7 linked regions of the Homo sapiens genome follow. The protein of the gene in region 4 purifies or fractionates together with the protein of the main gene of each other region. This does not show direct contact. Each region holds a gene or a part of one and is shown on either strand. Other genes may lie near its edges.

Region 1 (3,500 bases), on a different chromosome or scaffold from region 4:
TCCCTCTTTTAATAAACATAAAAATCAATCCTTCTTTTAATGTTGGTTGAAAAAATGTAAATATATTAAGTATCATAGCTAAAAACAATCAGTTCCCTCACCCCAGTCATCAGTTGAAATCACTGCCCTCATCTGACCATCTACTGAATCACTCTGTGATGACAACTCTAGGCCCTTGTGGTACATCTTGCTGGCCCAATCTTCCATTCTTTGAAGAAAATAAAGACATGGAAATATACAATCCAATCAAAGGCAGAATCCTCTTACCACAACAAAATAAGTAACTTTGCTTAAGTAAAAATTACTTATTCCCAGAGTAAACCAAAGAGTGCACTCAAAATACTTAAAGAAGCTACAGAAAAACACACATTTGAAGACTCAAGCTTTTATCCCCATTCTGTTGCTAGACAATGGTGTCAAAGCAGCACAATAGCCTCTACCTTTGAAATAACAATGTTCTCTTTAGTAAATTACTTCAAGATACTTTTGCAAGTATAGGAGTCTGACAGACCTAGAAACAAATTCCCAATCTTGCAGAAGAATGCATGTTTTCCAAAGAAGCAATGTCATGAATATGGCTGGCTTTCCTGTGTAACTCTCCAAGGCCTAGTTTACCCATTATATAATTGTGCTTTCTGGTTTTGCAGTTTCAGAAACCTGAGGACCGGAGGGTTATTTCTATGGGTAAATGCATGTGAATTTCAAACACAAAAGGTTAAATTTTCTACTCCATAACTAAATTTTCTACTCCATCTACTGCAACCTTAAAATAAGGCTTGATTCCTAAGTTTTCAAAAACTAAAAGAGAAAAAACATTAAGTCAAGTTAAGAAGCATTATATAAATCTTGCATAAAAATAAGTAACATAATAACCCAGAAATTTTTTTTTTTAAGACCGGGTCTCACTCTGTCACCCATGCTGGAGTGCAGTGGCGTGATCTGAGCTTACTAGAACCTCCACCTCCCGGGTTCAAGGAATCCTCCTGCCTCAGCCTCCCGAGTAGCTCAGATTACAGGTGTGCACCACCACACCCGGCTAATTTCTGCATTTTTAGTAGAGATGGGGTTTCACTATGTTGGCCAGGCTGCTCTCGAACTCCTGACCTCAGGTGATCAGCCCCCCTCGGACTCCCAAAGTGCTGGGATTACAGGCGTGAGCCACCATGCCTGGCCAATAACACAGAATTTTACATCTAGAAGAGATGTTAGAAATGATCTCAAATAACCCTTTATTTTTAATGTTAATCCTGTACGGTAAGAATCACCAATACATAGCATCTCTGAGTTCACTCAATTGAGAAAATAAAAATCCAGACACTGTTAGACTACCTATCAGGTATGCATAATGCTCTTTTTTAATATGTATTTAATTTAATACACATATTAAATAATGCTCCATTTATTGGTTTCGATGGCAACAATTTTTTTCCCCTCCATTCAGAATTAAGACTTTAATCATCCGAAGTGGCAATGTGAGCATATTTTAAAACCGTTTAGGGGTTAATCGTCTCTCTCATTGCTTACACCAGTGCCACCACCTTAAATTAAAATAGTTCTGACTGCTAAGGAATCTCAACACATTACATTCACACATTCCTATGCATATAAATCCTGAATTTGAACATATGCTCCAGCACCTGGGCAAGTCATTTAGTATTTCCAAAGCACAGTTTCTTCATCTGCAAAATGGACACAACCTACCTTCACAGGGATACAAAGACCAAACTAAATGTGAAAACATGTTTGGGAAGAGTACAGATATACATATAAATGCTTGCTATGATTATAAGAGCTCTAAATTTCTACATTTCACTAAAAGGAAGAATTTTGTTCAGATGTAGAAACTGAATGAACTACAGTTGCTGAGTTGGCATTACACACTTTAAAACCAAACAAGTTTCCAGGGACTTTTCTATCTAAAGTTCCTTCTAGGGAAGTAGAGTAAGATGTTAAAACTTACATATCTTCATTTTAATATTTTCACAGGTGGACCATACACTTTCTTTCTTTCTTTTTTTTCTTTACTGGAGACTTTGAGGCAGGGTCCCACTGTCACCCAGGGTGGTGTGCAGTGGCATGATCTCGGCTCACTGCAACCTCTGCCTGCTGGGTTCAAGTGACCCTCCTGCCTCAGCCACCTGAGTAGCTAGGATTATAGGCACGCACCACCGTGCCCAGCTAATTTTTGAATTTTTAGTAGAGACGGGGTTTCTCCATGTTGGCCAGGCTGGTTTTGAACTCCTGACCTCAAGTGATTTGCCTGCCTTAACCTCCCAAAGTGCTGGGATTACAGGCGTGAGCCACCATGCCTGGCACATGGAGGATACACTTTCTACATTCCTCTCAAGGGCAGGAACAGTATCTTAGGCATTATTTTAGCTGCAGTAACTGGAACAGAGACTGTCTCTGTGTTTAATAAATATTCATCAGAATATACTTTTCCAGAATAAAGTAAAACTTTTGTAAAATATATGTGAGGTGGAAAGAGCTCTGGCCATGGAGTAGATATTTGCTCTCATATCGTGTATTACAAGTCCCTCAAGCATCCTGAGGCTTCATTTCCCTTTAAAAAATCTACCCTGTCGCCGGGTGCGGTGGCTCATGCTTGTAATCCCAGCACTTTGGGAGGCTGAGGCGGGCAGATCACGAGGTCAAGAGATGGAGACCATCCTGGCTAACACAGTGAAACCCCGTCTCTACTAAAAAATACAAAAAATTACCCGAGCTTGGTGGTGGGCGCCTGTAGTCCCAGCTACTCAGGAGGCTGAGGCAGGAGAATGGCGCGAGCCCAGGAGGCGGAGCTTGCAGTGAGCCGAGATCGTGCCACTGCACTCCAGCCCAGGCAACAGAGTGAGACTCCGTCTCAATAATTAAAATAAAATAAAATAAAATAAAAAATCTACCCCGTCAGTAATGCCCCTTTTATCCGATGTCAGACATCCACCCAGAATACTGCAAATAAGGCCTTTGAGTGACAAAAAGAAAAAGTTTCTAATGAAGTCCATGCATGCACTTTATGCATAGTAGAGGCCTACTGATTCTTATTTTAAGTGCGTGTGTGTGTGTGTGTGTGTCTGTGTGTGTGTGTGTGTGTGTATTTGAGACAGGGTCTCACTCTGTCACCTAGGCTGGAGGGCAGTAGCACCATCACAACTCACTACAGCCTCGATCTCCCAGGCTCAAGCAATCCTCCCACCTCAGCCTCCCAAGGAGCTAGGACGAAAGGCACATACCACTATGCCCGGCTAATTTGTTAACATTTTTATTTTTATTTTGTAGAGACTAGGTCTCCCTATGTTGCCCAGGCTGGTCTTGAACTCCTGTGCTCAAGTGATCCTCCCGTCCTGGCCTCCCACAGTGTTGGAATTCCAAGCATGCACCACTGCATTTGGACTGTTTTAAGAATAATTCTAATAAGCTGTTACTTGGTTATATTTCCCACTGGTGGTTAAAAGCACTAAGATAGATCAGATGTCCAAAGAAAGAGAAATTGGAGAACC
Region 2 (3,390 bases), on a different chromosome or scaffold from region 4:
TCGCTGCCTCTGCCCTCCGCCCTCTTCTTGCTCTGCCCCAAAGGTGGAGCCTCCCAAGACTTCTTCCTCTGCCCCAAAGGTGGAGCCTCCCAAGACTTCTTCCTATGGGCCCTGCAGTATCTCAACTCCCCTTCCGAGCTCCCAGGGGTATTTCAGTACCAAGCCTAGAACCTGTGGCCGGCCTCTGTGGTTGACCTCGGTGGATGTGGCCGGCCCCAGCCCACTGAGGCCTGATCTGCTCCCGACCCCAAAGCCCAGGGTGTTGCCTTCTCAGCTCCTCTCTGTCCACAGGTGCAGCATGGTCTCCATGTCACCGACGCAGACGCAGATAAGGGGCATGGATGGACAGCTGTAGCCAAGGGCAGCCCTGGTTCTGGCCTGGGACTGGTGGTGATGGGGGTTGGGAGTGAGCACGCACGCACACGCCCCCCAACCTCCTGTGACTGCTCCTTTGGGGCACACGGCAGGATTTTACTTTGTGGGGAAGATAACCACAGGGAGAGGAGTGAAAACCTTTATTTGGAAAAGTCAGCAACATGGATATGGTTCAGAAAAAAACACAGAAGGAGCAAAACTAACATGAACATAGAAAGGGGGCCTTTGATAAAACGTCGAACACATCACTATTCTGAGGAAGGAGAGGTTTGCGTTGTTTCTAGTAAGACACAGCCCTCTGTGGCACCAAGGGGCTCTCATGTCCAGTCCAGGCCCCAGTCTCTGCGGGAGGGAGGAGCAGACGGGGTTAGCACCGTTAATCTCGAGGGTCTTGAGTGCAGCCAGCGCCCCTGCGAGTACTCTCTGAGGTCGGGGTCAGTGCTGGTCAGCAGCGGCCTCCAGGGCTGTAGGGCCAAGGTCCAGGCCGGTCACCAGCAGGACCCTCAGGAGACGGGGCCGAGTCGCCGAGATTTATGTCTGCAACGGCCTCCTGACCTTGGTTTCCCAAAACGAGACAGAGGCCAATGGCTGCCCCAAGCTGAGGAGAAGAGCTTGCTTTGAGTTTAATTGTAAAGTAACTGTTAGGTGAGGATTGGTGGGAAAAACCAGCTATGGGGACAGAGGAGAGGGAGGCTAGTGCGGCACAGGCCCCGAGAGGGCGTCTTGCTCAGGCTGGTGGGATGCAGCACAGAGGTGCCTAGGGAAGGAGCTGCGCAGGCAGGAGGGAGGGCGGGCAGGAGGGCAGGGCAGGAGAGCCCGGGGTGGGGAACCCAGGTGAGGCCAGCTCAGGGCTGAGCCCCAGAGGGCCCTGCACAGGTGACGCCAGCTCAGGGCTGAGCCTCAGAGGGCCCTGTGCAGGTGACACTAGCTCAGGGCTGAGCCCCAGAGGGCCCTGCGCAGGTGATGCCAACTCAGGGCTGAGCCCCGGAGGACCCTGCACAAAGCAGGCAGCAGCGTTGTGTCCTGGCTTTCCAAGCTTTTCCTTAAAAAAAATCTAGCGAATCAGGTTGGTCGGGAAAATTCGCATCACATTTTACTCTGTTTAGTGATGAGTGGGGAGGGGTGGGAGGACAGGGTTTGGTGCCGGCGTGCAGGGTGGGCTAGCCCAGCGCCACCTTCCTGGAGACTGTCTGGTGGAAGACACCGCGGAGCAGGGCCTGGTAGCTGGGGACACGGAACAGGTGGCTCTCGCCGTAGGCCACGTCGTACTCGGCCGTCTTGCCGGTGACCAGGACGCGGATGTGGGGCTCATTCACCTGGCGGCCCACGACCACCACGAAGATCTCGATGCCTGCCCGCTGGGCTTCCTGCACGGCCTTCTCGATGGCAGCGGGCGTGGCGCCCTGCGAGTTGCCATCTGAGAAGAGCAGCAGCCTCTTCTTGGCAGCGCCGGACGAGGCCTCGCGGTAGAAGCGGGTCACATAGCCCAGGGCATCGTTGACGTCGGTGGCGTCGTTGATAAAGTCCATGGCATCGACGGCACTGGCCAGGGCCGTGTAGTTCTGCAGGAACTGCAGCGACGCCCGCTCTGGGCGCTGCTGGCCCGTGCCGCTGTACTGCACCACCGCCACCCGCACGTCGTGGGCGGGGTCCGTCCTGCCCGCTGTGAGGAAGCGCTCGGCCAGGCGCTTGGCGAAGCGCTTGGTGGTGTCAAAGTTGTGGCTGCCCACGCTGGCGGAGCCGTCCAGCAGGATGGTGATGTCAGCCGGGGAGGAGAACGTGACTGCGGGGCGGGGTGGGCAGCCGTTAGCATGAGGCCCTGGTGATGCAGCCGCAGTGGGCCGGCCAGAGAGCGTCTAAGCTCCCCAGAGAGGGCACGGCACGGTGGTGCTCAGCCACCGGAGTGAGCCATGCACCTACTCTCGTGACCGCCAGGCCCTCCTCCCAGAGCCCCGTCCTCTCAGAGCCCTCGCCCCAACCACGGTGCCCTCCTCCCCACGTGTCCCGGCCGCCGAGGTACTCACTGGGGCAGGTGTAATCTGGACACTTCTTGTCTGTAAAAGAGAAAAGCCGTGCAGTGTGAGCCCACTGCTCCACCTATAACCCCGCAAGGAGATGTCACAGGACCTCCCGGCCGAGCACAGGGGTGGCCGTGCCCCCGGAAGTCACAGCGAGCCGGGAGGAGGATGCCTGTGGGACAGCCCCAGGCGGCCCCGTGCGCACCTACAGGGTGGCCGTGCCCCTGGAGGTAACAGTGAGCTGGGAGGAGGCCTCTGGGACAGCCCTGGGCGCCTGCGCGCACCTACACAGATCTGGGACGGCCCTGGGCGGCCCCGCGTGCACCTACGCAGATCTGGGACTGCCCGGGCGGCCCCGCGTGCACCTACGCAGATCTGGGACTGCCCGGGCGGCCCCGCGCGCACCTACGCAGATCTGGGACTGCCCGGGTGGCCCCATGCGCACCTATGCAGATCTGGGCGGTGACATTCTTCAGGAAGGCATCCTCCAGCAGCTCTGCATAGTTCTCCTTGACCAGCGAGAGGCCGGGCCGGCCCTGGGATGGTGCCAGGCCTTGGCAAGAAATGACATTGAGCTGGTCTGAGCCTGGGATGAAGTCAAACACGTCTTTGATGCCCACGGAGACCACCTGTGGGGACAGACAGTATCGGTGTGGCGCAGCCTGCTCTGCCCTCGTCTTTCTGGGGACAAGGCCACCCTGGCTGGCGGGGCGCCCTAGGCGGGGCAGGTGCAGCCTGGGGGTGGCCACCCCACCTGGATGCCGGGGCTGCAGAGCACGTTGAGCGGTGTGGTGTCCCTCTGAGTGTCTGAGCGCCCGTCAGTGATGACCAGGGCGATGCGGTTGTTCGGGCTGGGCGGCAGCAGCTGGTCCCGCGTGTACTGCAGGGCCTCCCCCGTGAAGGTGCCGCCCGCCATCCACTGCAGGCTCTTGATGGCTCTGCATAGCAAAGGGCAGGAAGGGCCGGTTGGGGCCAGGCCTGCCGCGGGGCCGAGCCC
Region 3 (3,500 bases), on a different chromosome or scaffold from region 4:
TGAGGGAGGGGGTGGGGAGGGGTGAGGGAGGGGGTGGGGAGGGGTGGGGGAGGAGGAGGAGAGGGGAAATAAGGATGGGGGAGGAGGAGGGGGAAAAAGAGGAGGGGGAATGAGGAGGAAGAAGAGGGGAATGAGGAGGAAGAAGAGGGGAATGAGGAGGAGGAGGGGGAGGAAGAAGATGGGGAGGAAGAGGGGGAGTGGGGGGAGGAGGAGAAGAAAGAGGAGGAGGAAGATGAGGAGGAGGAGGAAGATGGGGAGGAGGAGGGGGAGTGGGGGGGAGGAGGAGGGGGAGTGGGGAGAGGAGGAGGGGGAGTGGGGAAAGGAGGAGGGGGAATGGTGGGGAGGAAGAGGAAGATGGGGAGGAGGAGGAGAGGACGGGAATGCCTCTGTCACTGTGGGCAGTAACTGTGAGCCTAGACTTTGCCGGGAGTGCCCGACTGGTGCAGGGACCCACGGGAGATGCTTTAGACGTCATCTCTCAGGATCGGCCTAGTCTTCACCTCTCTTTAAACCTGGGGTGCTGCTGTCTTCCAGGTCAGGGATAGAGCAGTGATGGGAGGGGCTCTGTCCTCGGCGGGGAAATGGGTTTATGTGTTAAGATGGGAATCACGTCATCTGCACACAGGGCTAACTCCTGGGTGGTCAGGGAAGGGAACCACCAAAGTGGACAGAAATAGCAGCTGCCTTTTGAAATCGGGGGATGGGGTGTGGCCCCTCCTGTCTGGTCAGATTCACTCTCCAGATCCTGGGGCTGTTTCTCCCTGAGCAACTGTCTGTCCTGTCCACGCAGTTCGGTGTCCTGGACAGTCAGCAGCAGCGCTAAGAACTATGCCAGAAACTCTCAGGGACACGCCTGGGCATGTCCAGATACAACGTGGGGAGGGAGGAGGAAGGTGCTCCCCCTGCAAAGTGGCAAAGGGCCAGTGGCAGCAGCAGCACCTGGAACAGCGTCGGGGGCGCGCACATTCACAGTGACTTTCTGGGGTGTCCTGGGGCTCCCCAGCTCTGGCCCTGGGCTGAGGGAACCCCAGACTGAAATATGAAAGGAAGTGGGGAGGGCAGGGCTATATTTAGTGGACAGAGGGAGACCAACAACGGGGTGCTTCTGGGGATGCTGGGGAGAGTGGACGGCGGGGGGACCCTAGCCTGGAGCCCTGACCCACAAGCTCACTACACAAGTGCCTGGAGCACTTCCAGGCTCTGTGAGGCTCTGGGGAATGGACGAGGCCCTACAGCCAGCAGTGTGGCCTCATGGGCTGGGCCGGCCCCCTGAGTCCTGGCCCTCAGATGCCGGGTGAGTCATCCTGGTGTGGTGCCGAGCAGCTCCCTGTGCTGCGGCTGGCCTGGGCTTGTGTAGTCTCTGCAGGATGCCCCATCCCATCCAGAACCACAGGAACCCAGCCAGCAGCAGCCGCTTGCAGAAGAGCAGACATGACCGAAAATAGAAGGTGGGGAGAGGAGAGAGGAGAGAGGCCTCACCCCAGGGCCTTACCTTGGCAGGTCCTGCCATCAGAGGAGAGCTCGAAGCCGCTGTGGCAGGAACAGTGGAAGCTACCCGGCTTGTTGTGGCAGATCTGGAGGCAGCCCCCGTTCTCCTGGCTGCATTCGTTGACATCTGGGAACAAGCACAGGCCTGAAGGGGAGCCCAAGGGTGCACAGCCCCTGGCTACGGTAGGAAGAGATCCCAGAGGTGCACAGCCCAGCCCTGGAGCAGGGAGGGAGCCCAGAGGTGCACAGCCCAGCCCTGGAGCAGAGAGAGATCCCAAAGGTGCACAGCCCAGCCCTGGAGCAGGGAGGGAGACCAGGGGTCACAGCCTAGCCCCGGAGCAGGAGGAAGGGACCCCGGGGGTGCACAGCCCAGCCCTGGAGCAGGGAGGGAGCCCAGGGGTGCACAGCCCAGCCCCGGAGCAGGAGGAGGGGACCCCGGGGGTGCACAGCCCAGCCCTGGAGCAGGGAGGGAGCCCGGGGGTGCACAGCCCAGCCCCGGAGCAGGAGGAAGGGACCCCGGGGGTGCACAGCCCAGCCCTGGAGCAGGGAGGGAGCCCGGGGGTGCACAGCCCAGCCCCGCAGCAGGAGGAAGGGACCCCGGGGGTGCACAGCCCAGCCCTGGAGCAGGGAGGGAGCCCGGGGGTGCACAGCCCAGCACTGGAGCAGGGAAGGAGCCGGGGGGGTGCACAGCCCAGCACTGGAGCAGGAGGAAGGGACCGCGGGTGTGCACAGCCCAGCCCTGGAGCAGGGAGAGAGCCTGGGAGTGCACAGCCCAGCCCCCGAGCAGAGAGAGATCCTAGAGGTGCACAGCCCAGCCCTGGAGCAGAGAGGGACCCCAGGGCTTGGACCTCACACCCCACTCAGCAGCCCTAGCGTTTCATGGCCCCTGGTCCTGGCCTTGCGTGTGGAGGTAGATGGTGGGAGGGCATGGGGGATCCCCAGCTGCGGTCTCAGCCTGGGGAGCTGCTGGCAGTCACAGCCCACAGGGCTCAGCTCCCTGGATGCCCATGTGCTTGCAGGAGGAGGCTGCAGGCCAGGAGTGACCTCTGGGTGCCGAGGACAGACAAGGCCAGGCCAGAGCTGGCCACTCCTTAGCAAAGCCCTCCCAGGCCACCTGTGGGGTAGGATTTGCCAAAGGGGACAGGCTGGCCTGCTGGGCTCTCCACTATGGGTCTCCACCAGGCCCTGGAGCTATTCTTCCTCCAGGGTCTTCACTGACACCACAGGTCTACACTGAAGGACGGTCAGAGGTGAAATCTCCCCCCGGCCTTTCAATCAGTGGGTGCCACTGACACCACAGGTCTGCACTCAAGGACGGTCAGAGGTGAAATTTCCCCCCCGCCTTTCAATCAGTGGGTGCCACTGACACCACAGGTCTGCACTCAAGGACGGTCAGAGGTGAAATTTCCCCCCCCGCCCTTCAATCAGTGGGTGCTGAGGCATCACTTGGTGTTTCCTTTCCTTCCAGCCCTGCTCCCAGAAAGGAGACTGCAGCTCCTCCCAATTCTCCTGGGGCTCCAGGATACCTCAGGGCTGCAGCCTCCTTGGGGCTGTCGGAGAGCAGCCTGAGGATGGCCGTGCCCCGGAGTGGGAGTGAGGAGCGGGGATCAGGGCAGGGTCGGAGATGGAGGGAGACCCCGCCTTTGTCTTCAGCCTCACGTACCTTTGTCGCAGAGCCGGCCCCCCCAGCCAGCTTTACACAGGCAGAAGAAGTTGCCCATGAGGTCCTGGCAGGCTTGGGTCCCCTTCCTATCGCAGGGGTTGGGCGTGCACTGGTCAGGCAGGTCTGATTGGGGACACAAAGTGGAAAATCATGTTCAGCTGCCCCACCCCTGCGCGCCCAACGCAGCTGAGATCGGGGCGGCTGTGGGGTCTCGGGTCCAGCCCGGAGGAGCTCTGAGGGGCGCAGGCTGAGGCAGCCCCTGGGCACCCGAGCCCTCTGTGCTGGCCTAGGGCTGACAGAATAGGCTGGCGGGCCCTGGGGCCGGCTCCAGGAAAACTCAGATCAACTG
Region 4 (3,500 bases):
ACTGGCCCTGGCCCCAGAAACTACCCAGGTAGGGGACTAATCTACAATGTGTCAAAATGACAAAGAGGTACTTACGAATGGAGATTGTCATACAGCGCCTAATATGATACGGACATACTCTAATGTTGGGACAGTTGAAGTCATTTATGACCGCACAGTCATGGCATCTCAAACTGTAAGTCCCTGAGAGGGGAGAAAGCAGGCTTCAGGCTTCTGCTCCACTACGCCTTTTCCACCCATTACCAGCTCACTCCACCCTTCTTCAACGGCCAGCCCTTCCCCTCTGCTTCCAAGGACTTCTCCTAGCCTGCACAGCTCAGCTCTCTATGCAGTCTGAGTCTGGCCCAGGCTAGCTCCTGGGAGGGAGGCCAGGCACAAGGAGAGCTTTCCCTGCTCTCCAACGCAGGCTCCAGAGAGCGCCACTGGTGGTCACATACGGGATTGCTATGCTCTGCAGACCTGGCTCACCTCGCCAAGGAAGACTGGATACTCACAGGGGTCCGCCATCCTCCTGGGTTTCCCTGGACAGAGCCCCTCCTGCCTGGCGCTGATGGAGAAGGGCCACATCAAGGTTCCCCCTTGGTCCCTGGTCAGCTGCTCCTTCATCCTAACCCTCTCCTTGCTCATGACTACTCCTGGACTGCCCTAGTGCCCACCCCTGATTACACAGACAATGCAGGCCCCAGCTAACGGAGGCTTGCTCCACGTTGCAGCCAATCATCCCAGTGACCCCCAGCACCCCAGGTGAATTCTCGTCCTCTCCAGGACAGTGAGAGGGAATGATACTTACACTGAGCGCGCATGGTGGCACTGGCTGCCACCAATGGGAGCTCCATGGCTAGGAGTAAGGCAAAGAGGAGCATCACTTCACGCAGGAGCCTGGACCTGAAGGGAAGGAGCCCCATACAACACGTTAGTGAGCCATGGCTCCTTGGCCAGCTCTATGCCCCTGGCCTCAACGGCCTCATGAGTCTCCCTGACTCTGCCCACCTGAATGCCTCCCCCACTGGGCCAGTAGCTCCTCGGGTAAGGCACTGGGGTCGGGCAGGTCTCACCCACACACGAGGCTTCGCCAGGCCTGTGCCCTCACCTCAGACAAACTCGCTGTCACTCCTTGAGCCAGGGAGGTCCTGGGGCTGCTTCATGTGGCAGCTCACCCAAGGGTCCCCACGCTCCGAAATATGTTTCTGTATCTGCTGGTTGATTCTGAACCTCAACAGCGGCTTGTGAAATGTTCTCAAATACTCCGCCCACTGACGCGCTTCCCGCTCCCTCCGCCCACTGACGCGCTTCCCGCTCCCACACACAGCTCAGCAACACGAGGGCCAAGGTGACTACAGAAGGGGAGCGAGGGCAGAACATGCCAGAAGCCCAACTTGAAGGCATCCTCAGTGTCATTACGAGAGAACTCCCCTCCCAAAATCAAGTCTTCCTTCACCCTGGGCATCACCGAGCCATCAGCTAATTACTGGCAAGGGGAGGGTCTGGGGCACCTCACACCTGAGTCCTGATGCCAGCACTGTGGGCTCAGAAACGCCCCCCAGGTCACCAATCAGTTGCCACAACTGAGACATTTTCTCGCAGGGACCCAACTGCACCCTTACTCCTGCAAACGCACTGTCTCCATCCCCTACCCCCCTTCAGCAGCCCGACTCAAGGGGGAAGCTCCATCTCCCTGGTTGGGAGCAGGTCAGCCCGCAGTGCTCAGTGGGGCAACTCCCTGGGCCCAGCTGCTGATGCGTGCTGACTCCCCTCACGCGAAGGCCCCACCTGGAGGGGGTCAGAGCCTGATGTGTAGCTCCCTCCACCGCAGGAGCAGCTGGGGCTACAGAACTAGAAGCTGACTGTGCAGCAAGAAGCCACACCCCAGGGATAGGGATGATCAGGATCCAGTACCCACTTTGCCCCACCCTGTGTACCAAGTCCAGCGCCAGTGGGCGAGGCTGAGATTCAAAATGCCCCTAGCCCTAGGTCATCAAGTTTAGGAAAAAAGATGGGCTGGTACCTCTGGCATGCAGGAGACCAAGACTGGGGGCCTGTCAGTGTCCACCCTTGGAAGGGGCTCCTGACTCGTCCAGCCAGCCAGCCTCCCTAGGTGGATCTCCTACCCACTCCATGCCCATTCCCCTGAGACCCAGCAGCCCCGTCTCCACTCTGTCGTGCCTGCTTTCCCTGGATGCCTCCTTCACTCATCCAACACTTGCTCCCAAAGCTGGGCTCAAGGGCACCTACTGACCCAGAGCATGTACACTGAGGCCCTCTTCCTCCATGAGGGCACAGCAGACATTCTGAACACCCTTCTACTGTCAATGCCCAGAGCACATGCAGGAAAACTCCCATCAAGTGTGTTCACTGATTTCCAGCTGGATCTTGGGGTGGATGGGAAAATACCCAAGAGCTACAATGGAATACTAGAAGACAGCAAACTGGAAAGTCCACAGTAACTGTATGATTTCCTCGGGCACAGGTTGACACCCAGCTCCCAGAGCTTTAGGATTTTGTAGTAGAAGAGGTCCTGGAGACAGAGCCAGGGCCAAGGTGAGTGCGAAATGAGAGCTTGGATTCCTTCACAGAGCATGGATCCTCAAGACTAAAGGTGTCAGAGAAGCAGAGTGGGCTAGAAAATGTGGATCATCAGCATCAGCAAACAGAGACCCTGGTAACTTCAGGCCTCATCTTCCAGAGGATGCATGAAAACAGTGTGTTTCCCAGGAATTCCTTACCCAGAGGCTTTCTCAACAGTCAGTCTGGAGTTAGAACGTGTATGACTGTGTGATCATAAACCCCAGACACAAAAACCACTTGCAAGTGGTCATGAGTCATCCTCACCCTGGGAAGCCAACAGAAACCATCACTGGAGGGGGACATACCCTCCACTCAGACCCCGAGTCTCCGGTTGACTAATGACAAATACAAATGTGCCACAGATAACCAGAGGCACAGAAGTGATTAAGCCCCCAGGAGCAAAGGCAGAAGAAACAAAATCTCCAAGTTAGACTCCCAAGGAATTCCCATATAGGAATGATTGGAGGCAAATGTAAACATACAGCCTTGAAAAGTCAGGAAAAAATCAGGTCACTTCCACTTCTACATGGGATGCAGTAGGTTGTGGCTGCTCAGAATGTGACAACCAGGCAAATCAATCCACAGAGTTAAAAGTCACATTTGAAAGGCCCTTGGACAGATGTGGAAGCACCAAGGCCCACGTAAACTGAAATTCCGAAGAGGGCGAGCCCTTCCCAGGGTACCCTTTGTCATTGCAAATACATTTGTCACTTTGGGCACCAGCTGAAAGCCAGGCTGGCTACAGACAGGGACTCCAGTAGGGAATGCAAACCAGAGTGCCGTCTTGGCTCACGGGGAACCAAAGTGGCCCAGAATCTCCAGGTACCTAAAGATCAAGACAGTTTTCCCATGGAAGAGCCTCCAAGTGCTGTGGTGGGAGGGACCCTGGGGAGTCAGAGAAGGCCAAGTAGAATCCCCCCCAGTGTGGCAGATCC
Region 5 (3,500 bases), on a different chromosome or scaffold from region 4:
GTCACGAAATGCCCATGAGGGGCGTGCTCGCTAATTCTGGCTTCATAAATCTGTTGTTCAAAGAGTGGTGGATTATCATTGAGGTCGGTAACGTCCACCGTGACAATCACATCACTGCTCAGCGTGGGCATACCACCATCAACTGCCCTCACAAAAATCGTGTGCTGCCGGGACTGCTCGTAATCCAGGGTTCTGAGTAGTGAGATGAGGCCAGTGCTGCTGTCTACATGAAAATGATCATGACTCTTGCTGTGATTCCCAAACATCTGGTATGAGATTCCTCTATTTGGTTCTGAATCAGAATCGGTGGCTCTAACTTGAACAACAGACGTTCCAATTACAGATGCCTCAGACAGGGTCACCGCATAAGACTGCTGAGCAAACACAGGAGGGTTATCATTGATGTCGTCTACTATGATGTCCACAAATACTTCAGCATGAGCGCCCGTCAAGGAGTCAGTTGCGCGTATGCTCAGCTTATATGCCGGGTGGGCCTCAAAGTCCAGAGGAGCTATGACATTGATAACTCCAGTATTGAAGTTAATAGTGAACTGGCTGAAAGGGTCTCCGTCTGTGATGCTGTAGAACACTTTCAGGCCTTCCGGGCTGTTAGCCTGCACGTGGACCACAGGGCTGTGCACCTGGATGCTCTCTGCAATCTCTGCACTGTAGAAAGGTTTTTCAAACACAGGCATGGCTTTATTCATGACAGTGATCGGAACGATAACTTCCGCTGAAAAGGCCGGGTTCCCTCCATCTTTTGCAACCACTGTAACAAGATATTCTTTATTTAAGGTGTCAAGCTCAAATTGCTTTTTCAGTGAAATTTCACCCAAGGGTCCAATTTGAAAGTGTTCATGATGTTCCTTGAGGTAGTAATGCACTTCCCCGTTTCTGCCACTGTCTCTGTCTACAGCAGTGACATAGCGAATGACATGGCCCACCTCAGTGTCCACTTTAACAACGGCGTAGTAGGGAAGGTTGACAAACACCGGCGCATTATCATTTTGGTCTTCTACAATGACCTTCACGACAACGTGGGCCACTGCAGAAGGCTTATGTTCCTCTGTCACTTCTACAACCACATCAAACGCCTCCTGCTGCTCACGATCGAAGGGCGTGCCAGTGGTTGACAGAACTCCTGAAGTGCGGCTTATTTTAAATCTGCGATCTGGGTTGAGGATGTGATAAAACAAAGGCTCATTGATTGGATTCCCAATAGCAGTAATGACAGCTAATGTTTCGGCCTCGGTGGAATTCTCTTTCACTACCGCAGAGTAGACATCCTGGGTAAACTTTAGGTGACTTTCTTTGCTTTCTTTCACATTAATTTTGACAGAGGTAAGGCCGGCAAATCTGCCATCGGAAGCTCTAACGGTTAGCTCGTAGCGGCTTCTTAACTGAGTTGTGTTTTGGACAGTGAGAGCACCAGTCTTGTAGTCCATAGAAAACTTCTCCCCGATGTTGCCTTCGGTGATGGAGTAAATCAACTGTGAGAATGCACTTGAATCAGCATCTGTAGCATTTACTGTGATGACTTTTACTCCTTTGTATGTTGGTAACAAAAGAGATGCTTCATATAATGGCTTGGCAAACACAGGGGGGCAGTCATTAATGTCAATTACATGTACTGTTACATTCGCTGCATACTCAGCAAATAAACGTGGGGTTCCCATGTCATGCACTTGGACGGTAAAGTGAAAAATACTTGTTTCTTCATAGTCCAGACTTAGTACTGTATGAATAGCACCAGTGCTAGAATCAATAGCAAAATATGTGTGTACAGATGGTTCAACAATGTGATATACAAGCAAAGCATTTGAGTCTTTATCAGCATCAGCTGCTCGAATCACCAGTGGGACATTCCTGTCTGTTAGGACCACGCTGTTAATTGAGGCTGATTCACTAATGAGTCCTGTATATTCTGCCTGCATAAAAACTGGCGCGTTGTCATTCTCATCCTGCAAGTGAACTAGAACCGTTGTATTAGTGGACAAACCAGCCATGTTAGTTCCTTGTATTATCAATGTGTAAATGGGCAAAGTTTCAAAGTCCAGGGCTTTCTGAGTGATGATAGTTCCAGAATGTGGATTAATATCAAAAGCATCACCTGTATTTCCATCTTTTATTTCATACACCACTGATGATTGACTATGGGCTGTAACCATCCCAACGAAACTCCCAATGCTGACAGTTTCACTAAGTTCAACAGAATATTCTTTTGATGTAAACTTCGGAGAGGCGTTGTCAGCAATTGTGACAAAGATACGCACAGAAGTTATTTCACTCATTGGTGGACTGCCCTTATCTGTAGCTTTTACCATTAAATCATACTCCGCTTGGTTACTTCGATCTAATTCTTTGGCAGTTTTAATAGAGCCCAAGACAGGATCAATCATAAAAGAATTTCCAATATTTCCTGGAAGGAGAGGAAAAAATACATGTTACAGAAAAACACAAGGGGCAGTAGTAGTAGTAGTTAGAGAAACAGAAACAAAGTATCCTTAAAAATTATATTCTGAAATTAAGCAGAAACTCAGGGGATGTCAATATTTGAATGGAACCTTCAACTTGTTTTATTTTTATCCACCTAAAACCAGGTATACTTTACAGAATTTTGTCCATAAATGATGAAAAACAAAAAACAGAAGAAACAGCACTCTGCTCTTAGCGAAGCCAAAACTCCCTCTCTCGGCTGCACTGGGAATGTGTGGTGGAAAGACAAGGCTATCCTTCCACAAAGCAGTTGAGTGAGTCACTTTCCAGGAGTCCCTCAAAACACTTCTGGACCACATTTGTATTTTCAACGGTTATGACTTACAAATTCTTAAGATATGTATTCATTACGAAAGATTTCGATTCAGTAAGAAATTGACATCAAGCTTCAAGAGACAATTGTCCATGGATAAATGTGTGTAACCCACCCCACTTTACAGGTTTTGAAGATTGCAACAACATTCCCTTCTTATCTTTTTCAGGTCAACTTATCCTCTAGGTCAGTGGTTTTCCCCTGGGGGCAATTCTGCTCCCTAGGAGACATCTGGTAATGCCTGCAGACATTTTTGGTTGTCACTACTTGTCGGAAGAGGGTGCTCCTGGCGTCTCGTGGGTGGAGACCAGGGGTGTTGCTAAGCATCCTACAACGCACAGGACAGCCCTACACAACCAAAAATATCTGGTTCCAAATGTCAGCAGTGCTGAAGCTGAGAGGCTGCTCAAAGATAGAGTGTTTTACCTCCTTTTCTTTGGACCTTTTCAGGCTATACTGTATGTATCTTTAGCTGCAACCACAACTCCAGAATATTGTATAATTTTGTATCATCGACTGAATCTTCAAAGAAACAAGCAGTTCTCTACAGCCCTTTTGGATAAATCAGGGTGGCGTTGCAGGTTCTCAGGTTTAATCCATCCACGAGCCCATCCTTTTTCTGTTTCATGAACAAGCACCCAGAATTCACCATCCCTGTCATAGCACAGAATTTATTTTCCCCAAATGAACT
Region 6 (3,500 bases), on a different chromosome or scaffold from region 4:
ACTACTATTATATGCAACAATAAACATGAATTTCAAAAGCCTTAGGCTAAGTGAAACCATATAAAAAAAAAGCTACATCCTGGACGGTTGCAGTGGCTCACGCCTGTAATCCCAGCACTTTGGGAGACCGAGACGGGCAGATCACCTGAAGTTGGGAGTTCAAGACCAGCCTAACCAACATGGAGAAACCCCGTCCCTACTAAAAATACAAAATTAGCCAGGCGTGGTGGCGCATGCCTTGTAGTCCCAGCTACTCAGAAGGCTGAGGCAGGAGAATTGCTTAAACCTGGGAGGCGGAGGTTGCAGTGAGCTGAGATGGCACTATTGCACTCCAGACTGGGCAACAAGAGCTAAACTCTGTCTCAAAAAAAAAAAAAGCTACATCCTGTATAATCCTATTCATTTGAAATTTAAAAACATGTAAAACTCACTACGGTGACAGAAATCACAATGATTGTCTATGGGTATGGGATGAAACAGAAGGGGACCCAAGGAAACTCTCTTGGAGGATGGAAATGCTATTTAGTTTGATTGGGTTATGATTACATAGGTATATATATTTATCAAAAATCACTGAATTATATACTGAAAATCTATGCATCTCATTGTATGCATAATTTTAGCTCAACAAAGTATTGTCAGGGAGAAAAAGAAAAAAACAAAACAACTTTAAACCAGACTTCTAGTTCAGGATATCAGAATGACCACAGTATTTTTCTTCTCCCCATAAATGGGTACTAGGAGGGAACATGAGAGGATGTTCTGGATCACTGGTTTTGTTCTAGTTATCTTGTTCTAAATGATGATTATATAGGTGTTTCAACTTTGGGATAATTTATCTAATTATACTCATGATTTGTACATTCTTCTGTATATATGTTATATTCAATTGTTTAAAATGAGCCAATGAATCAGGTACAAAAGTTCTATCTAGCTACTGAATTTTCATTAAGGATGTTAAATTTACCAAATAATGGTTTGGTTTCTAAATCAAAACAAAAGTGAAAACACTCCTTAGCTCTGATGATCAGCATTAGTCCCAGTGTAGGCCTAAAATACCAGCTTTTCAGCTCCCAATAAAATGCACACATGAAAGTGACTTCACGAAAGACTGTAAGATAGATATACTCTAGGTAACCTCAAAGCATCCCAATAAAATATGAATCCATTTTCTTACCCCATCTTTATCCTGATATTCTATAGTATGTTTGCTGAAAATGTATCCACCATACTTCTCAAAATAAACTGTAACTTTTTTTTTTTTTTTGAGACGGAGTCTTACTCTGTCACCCAGGCTGGAGTGCAGTGGCACGATCTCGGCTCACTGCAAGCTCCGCCTCCCGGGTTCACGCCATTCTCCTGCCTCAGCCTCCCGAGTAGCTGGGACTACAGGCACCCGCCACCAAGCAGGGCTAATTTTTTTGTATTTTTAGTAGAGATGGGGTTTCACCGTGTTAGCCAGGATGGTCTCGATCTCCTGACCTCGTGATCCGCCCATCTCGGCCTCCCAAAGTGCTGGGATTACAGGCGTGAGCCACCACACCTAACCAATAAACTGTAACTTTTATACAATTTATGTGTCAGAGAGCTTGTTTTTGCCAAATCTTCATTTGGACCTCTGCTAGACTACCAAATTCCCTGAATATTTTTTGAGAATAACAACATGTAAAATCTGATGACTGAAGTGTTGTGAAGGTAGCTAAATTCAAAAATCAAAAATATATAATGCAGGCAATTAACACAACTATTCTATATTCTCTGATAGTATTTAGAAGTACAGAAAACAGAGGGTGGGTTAATCAAGACAAATAAAGGTCAAGGTCACAAAGGAATTGGTGGGGATGGGGTGGTTTGGGGATTTTAAATGAAATCACTAACTAGGGGATCTGACAGTAAAAGAGGAGAAAATGAAACCAAGAGACTTAAATGACTAGGACCAAAAATCAAACAGCACATTTATCACAATTCAAGCAGCAAAAGTGGTAGAAAGGCAAGATGTTATAGTGAAAAAAAGAAGAGTTTCAGAGTTCAAGACAGATTTCATCTACTTAATTGTATACCTGAAAATGAATATAGGAGTATCTACCATTAGAATTATCAACCTATTGCATGGTGCCTGACCCAAAGTAGAATCTGAACAAATAAAAGGTAACTGTTATAAGTTGATGAAGTAAATGCAAATTACTTTTAACTTTTACCTAGAAGACAATTACAAACTCAAATCTACTGAGAAAAAAATAAAACTTATTCCAAGCTAACTATAAATAACATATAGCCCAATTGATATTTTTAGATTATCCAATCAAATGTTCTCTTCTTTTCTTAAGGCTAAATTAAAGTTGATTGGACAGATATTACACATGCAAATATATAACCATATATACTCAAAACAAAATTTTACTTTTTTCTGGAGCAATTTTAAATCACAAGTACATTGGTTTATATAATTTTTTTCTACATCTGTAGAATTTCTACACTGCCCTTATAACTCAATATTGACCACAATGAGATTAATCACAAATCTAAAGAAGGAAGATAACTTATAAAAATTGATTTGGTCTTCTTACTGCAGACACAGTCAAAGCAAGAAAACAGTATTAAGTAAGACAATAGAATTTTTAGTACTCACAAGCAATGGGAAAGATTAAATCATGTTAACAGTGAAGTTTGGTCTTGGCATCACATTAACTCATTAGGTGCCATATTACGCATTATACATTCATCCCATCAACTGATTCCTGAATGCAAATTTTAACAATTCTCCAATCAGCAAATGTATTAACCACAGCTTTGCCAATGATAAAATGATATTTAAAGCAATATTCTTACCTGCCTCAACAATTTCTCAATGGCCGACATTACCATAAGGCCTCTCCAAACTACTGGTTCACTTTCTTCAACCAGAAAGCCCATAGACATACTGCAACAGTAACATAAAAATACAACTAATTTGTATAAATTAATCAACATTATTCTGAAAAGTAACATTAAAAATATATATATGCTCACCAAGCAATACCATAATTCAAGAGAGGCCTCATTAGGTTGCCTGGAAAAAAAAAAAATCCTCTCTTTTAGAACAATAAAACACAACACATAAACATTCTGAATTGGGTTTTTTTTTCATCTTTTTAAAAATTTTTTTAATTAACAAAAATTGCATATGTTTACGGGGTACAACGTAATGTTATGATACATGTCTACATTGTAGTAGAATAATAATAAGTAAATAAATAATAAACCATGCTAATTAGCATTCCACATCACCTCACATATTCTTTCTTTGCAGTAAAAACATTTAAAGTCTACTCTTTTAACAATGTTGAAATATACAAAAAATGATTGTTAACAATAGTCACCATGCTGCGCAACAGATCACTAGAACTTATTCCCCCTGTCTAACTGAAACTTCGCACTACTTGACTAACATCTCCCCTTTGCCCGTCCATCCTTCCAGGATCAAAGAATACCAAACTGGAAATACAAATAGGCTACTCATA
Region 7 (3,500 bases), on a different chromosome or scaffold from region 4:
TGCTTTTTAAAATAGTTAAGCACTGAAAAGGGTAAGAAATATGACATTATACTTTCTTTTATAATTACCTGCACACTTACCTTTATTAGTGCTATTTGTTTTTTGTGTGTAGATTCAGATTATTGTCTGGGTTATATCCCTTCAACCTGAAGGAACGTTCTTTGTTATTTCCTCTAATGCAGGCTAATAGCAGTGAATTCTCTGTTTTTTGTAAGTAGGGATATATTTACTATCTTTTTTAATTTTTAGTTTTTATGAATACCTAATAGTTGTACGTTATTTATGGGGTAGAGGTAATATTTTGATACAACCAAACAATGTGTAATGATCAAATCAGGGTAACTGAGATATCCATCACCTTAAACATTTATCATTTCTTTTTGTTAGGAACATTCCAGTTCCACTCTTCTAGTTATTTTGAAATATACAATAAATTATTGTTAACTATAGTCATCCTGTGCTACTGAACATGAAAGACGGTTTTGCTGGGTGTAAGTTTCTTCATGACAATAGTTTTCTTTCATCTCTTTGAATATGTTATCTCACTGTCCTGTGGCCTCCATTCTTTCAGATTAGAAGGTAGCTGTTGATCCTGGCGTTTCCTTGTATATATGATTTTTCTCTTACTGCTTTTAAAATTTCCTTCTTGACTTTGGCTTTCAAAGTTTTTAATAAGATGTGTCTGGATATAAACTTCTTTGTGTCATCTGTATTTCACTGAGTTTCTGTATCTTAGATTAATGATTTTTATTAATTTGGGGGTGTTTTCAACCATTATTTTTCAAATATTTTTTTCTGATCCTTTCTCTCTCTCCTGGTATTTTCAATTACGTATATATTGGTGTGCTTAGTTATGTCTGATATTTCTCTGATGATCTATTTTTTTCATTATTATTTCTCTGTATTCTTCAGGATACATAATCTCTATTGATCTTGCTTCAAGTTTGCTGACTCTTTTTTCTTTTCTCTGTTAAACTTCCCTGGCTTAACTCATTACTCTCTTGGAGTTATCAAAATTCTCTTAATTGCTTACTGCCAATATCTTCATACCACTATGCTTAAACTTATCCATCCTCTGTTCCAAATAGAAATCAGTTCACTTGGGGAGGGCTACCAAGCTGTGTATTTTCATGGCCTCCCTCTACCTCTTGGTTGAATGTGCCTCACTGCTCTGAAGCTGTGGGGAGTGAGAGTGGCCTGCTCCTTTGTAGTAAAACCTCTGCTTACAAGTAGGGCACAGGGTGGGAAAGGTAACTTCTTGCCTTGCCTCTCCTGGTGGAGAAACTGTTCCTTACAAGTAAGCTGGAGTGAGGGCAATTGGGACACAGGATTTTCCAGCTGCCACACCTGAAGACCTTATGTCCTGGAATGAGGAGTTGGTGTAGGAAGGAAACCCCAGACTTCTCAGCTGTTTCTGCGTGGACAGAGCTTCTGTCCTACAAAACTGGGGATGACAAGAAATGCTGGCACCCAATCTTGGGGTAATGCAGTATCTCTGGAGTAGGACCTGGGTAGAGAGGAAACCTCTGGCTTCTTGGCTATATCCATATAGAGTGGAGCTTCCGTCATACTGAGCTAGGGATGGGGAGGTGCTGGGAGAGGGTCTTGGCTTAAATGCCTCAAACTCTCACTATTATTACTGATTAATAAATGTTTCTTCATTTGATGTATTTCCTTAGGACATCTTCTAAAGACTTTCAATAGTTGTTTTTTAAAATAATAATTTTTACTAGTTATGCTTGTTTCGTATGAGAGAGGGTTTACAGAGCTCCTTATGTGGCCAGCCTGGAAATGCCAGAGTACCAGGTTTTTTATTTGAATGTTACCTCCTCTTTAAAAATCGATTTGCTTTGTAGGAAGCATGAAACAGAGCTCCTGAAGTAACTAGAGAAAAGGTGATTTGAAGACCAACCCTCCTTCAAGGTCAGAATTTAGAAATGTTCTTTTATGCCAAAGATGTTTCTCAAATTTACTGTCTGGATAGAAAGGCTAATCCAAAGTGGTATCTACAGTATTCTGAGAGAGAAAAGTTGAAGGGCTTTCAGATTCTCTTAAAACACTTTATGAAAGGTTGATATTTTAATTTTATATCAAGTTAATTCCAAAAATGTGTTTAGTACACACATACACATACACACACCCCCCAAATATATCTGTAAATAAAAAGACAATGTTGGGTGATGATCATTGTCTTGGAATACTACTCCACTCTTTCCATTTCCATAAAATATAAAGAATTTACTGAAAATCCAGATCATTCTTATTAGATTAGGTAATCTAACTATAACATATGCCCCAGCCACTGGAGGACCATTTTCCATTTACTTACTATATAATGTCTATCCTTAAGAAAATTTTGGGTTATAAAATAACATTCAAATTGCACTTAGCAAATGTGGATTGGGAATGATTTAGAAATCAGCACTTGTGCTCATGAAGGAGTGGTTACTCCTGATGTTGGCTTGAGATATAAAAAGGGCTCTGTATTTGCACCAGAGCTATGAGATTTGTTAGCACAGAGATCTTCAGGAATGATAAAAGACACATGCAAGACCTTTTGAAAATTTAAATGACTTCTAGATAATGAATCCTCAAAATTTTTTTGAAAGTCACACAATTTTATAGTGATTAAAGCCTGTTTTGCTGCTAAAAATAGTAAGTGTAACAGCCCAGAGACACTTAAAAACACAACTACATTTTAGCTCTGATGATTCAATATTGTAAGAGGTTTCATAAAAGTATTATAAATATATTAAATAAGTCAGTACAGAGTACTTAATACTAAAATCAGTCCCTTTTTCCTTTTCTTTTTTTTTTTTTTCCCCAAGACGGAGTCTCACTCTGCCGCCCAGGAGTGAGTGCAGTGGTGCGATCTCTACTCACTGCAACCTCTGCCTCCCGGGTTCAAGCAATTCTCCTGCCTCAGCCTCCCGAGTAGCTGGGATGCCCGGCTAATTTTTGTATTTTTAGTAAAGATGAGGTTTCACCATGTTGGCCAGGCTGGTCTTGAATTCCTGACCTCGTGATCCGCCTGCCTTGGCCTCCCAAAGTGCTGGGATTACAGGCATGAGCCACCACGCCCAGCCCTTTTCTTTTGAAAACATGATTGTACCTGAGCAGAAGCTGTGTGATACCCCACTGCACTCCTCTAAGAAGAGTCAAACATCATAGAGCACAGTGTTTGAGTGATCCTGTTAATGACTGTCAATATTTAAATATTATTTTCCCCTTCTAGTTAGTATGCTTGTTTTATAAGAAAAGACATTTCTATAAAGGCCTTTTGAATCACTTCAAGTCATTGTCACAAGGGACAATGGGTAAGACGATTGCTCAAGCCTAGGAGTTCAAGTCCAGCCTGGGCAACAGAGAGGCTTGAATAGCAATACGTTGTCTCTAAAAATTAAAAACAAAAATAACAATGATGGTTTACTGATGTTAAAATTAGAACAGTACAAGGACAGAGTTTTGAAAACCAAATTATTTCAAGAGGATTAGCATTG

The links.
Region 1: the proteins of GML (region 4) and AAGAB purify together in Homo sapiens (affinity purification with mass spectrometry; 2 studies listed by BioGRID and IntAct, with this or other methods). This does not show direct contact.
Region 2: the proteins of GML (region 4) and COL6A1 purify together in Homo sapiens (affinity purification with mass spectrometry; one large-scale study listed by BioGRID and IntAct). This does not show direct contact.
Region 3: the proteins of GML (region 4) and GAS6 purify together in Homo sapiens (affinity purification with mass spectrometry; one large-scale study listed by BioGRID and IntAct). This does not show direct contact.
Region 5: the proteins of GML (region 4) and FAT1 purify together in Homo sapiens (affinity purification with mass spectrometry; 2 studies listed by BioGRID and IntAct, with this or other methods). This does not show direct contact.
Region 6: the proteins of GML (region 4) and NUBPL purify together in Homo sapiens (affinity purification with mass spectrometry; one large-scale study listed by BioGRID and IntAct). This does not show direct contact.
Region 7: the proteins of GML (region 4) and CNTNAP3 purify together in Homo sapiens (affinity purification with mass spectrometry; 2 studies listed by BioGRID and IntAct, with this or other methods). This does not show direct contact.

What each region holds. Positions count from the first base shown.
Region 1 is NC_000015.10:67,248,162-67,251,661, forward strand, and holds part of AAGAB (alpha- and gamma-adaptin-binding protein p34), read right to left. Parts: intron 1-3,500. UniProt on the Homo sapiens protein: May be involved in endocytic recycling of growth factor receptors such as EGFR.
Region 2 is NC_000021.9:46,002,159-46,005,548, reverse strand, and holds the end of COL6A1 (collagen alpha-1(VI) chain precursor), read right to left. Parts: intron 3,332-3,390; coding exon 3,148-3,331; intron 3,023-3,147; coding exon 2,839-3,022; intron 2,430-2,838; coding exon 2,400-2,429; intron 2,159-2,399; coding exon 1,536-2,158; 3' UTR 501-1,535; downstream 1-500. UniProt on the Homo sapiens protein: Collagen VI acts as a cell-binding protein.
Region 3 is NC_000013.11:113,836,577-113,840,076, forward strand, and holds part of GAS6 (growth arrest-specific protein 6 precursor), read right to left. Parts: intron 3,275-3,500; coding exon 3,152-3,274; intron 1,672-3,151; exon of another isoform or gene 1,616-1,671; coding exon 1,493-1,615; intron 1-1,492. UniProt on the Homo sapiens protein: Ligand for tyrosine-protein kinase receptors AXL, TYRO3 and MER whose signaling is implicated in cell growth and survival, cell adhesion and cell migration.
Region 4 is NC_000008.11:142,837,801-142,841,300, reverse strand, and holds part of GML (glycosyl-phosphatidylinositol-anchored molecule-like protein precursor), read right to left. Parts: intron 886-3,500; 5' UTR 864-885; coding exon 791-863; intron 184-790; coding exon 76-183; intron 1-75. UniProt on the Homo sapiens protein: May play a role in the apoptotic pathway or cell-cycle regulation induced by p53/TP53 after DNA damage.
Region 5 is NC_000004.12:186,619,357-186,622,856, forward strand, and holds part of FAT1 (protocadherin Fat 1 isoform 1 precursor), read right to left. Parts: intron 2,420-3,500; coding exon 1-2,419.
Region 6 is NC_000014.9:31,672,904-31,676,403, reverse strand, and holds part of NUBPL (iron-sulfur cluster transfer protein NUBPL isoform 1 precursor), read right to left. Parts: intron 3,050-3,500; coding exon 3,010-3,049; intron 2,921-3,009; coding exon 2,830-2,920; intron 1-2,829.
Region 7 is NC_000009.12:39,096,168-39,099,667, forward strand, and holds part of CNTNAP3 (contactin-associated protein-like 3 isoform 1 precursor), read right to left. Parts: intron 1-3,500.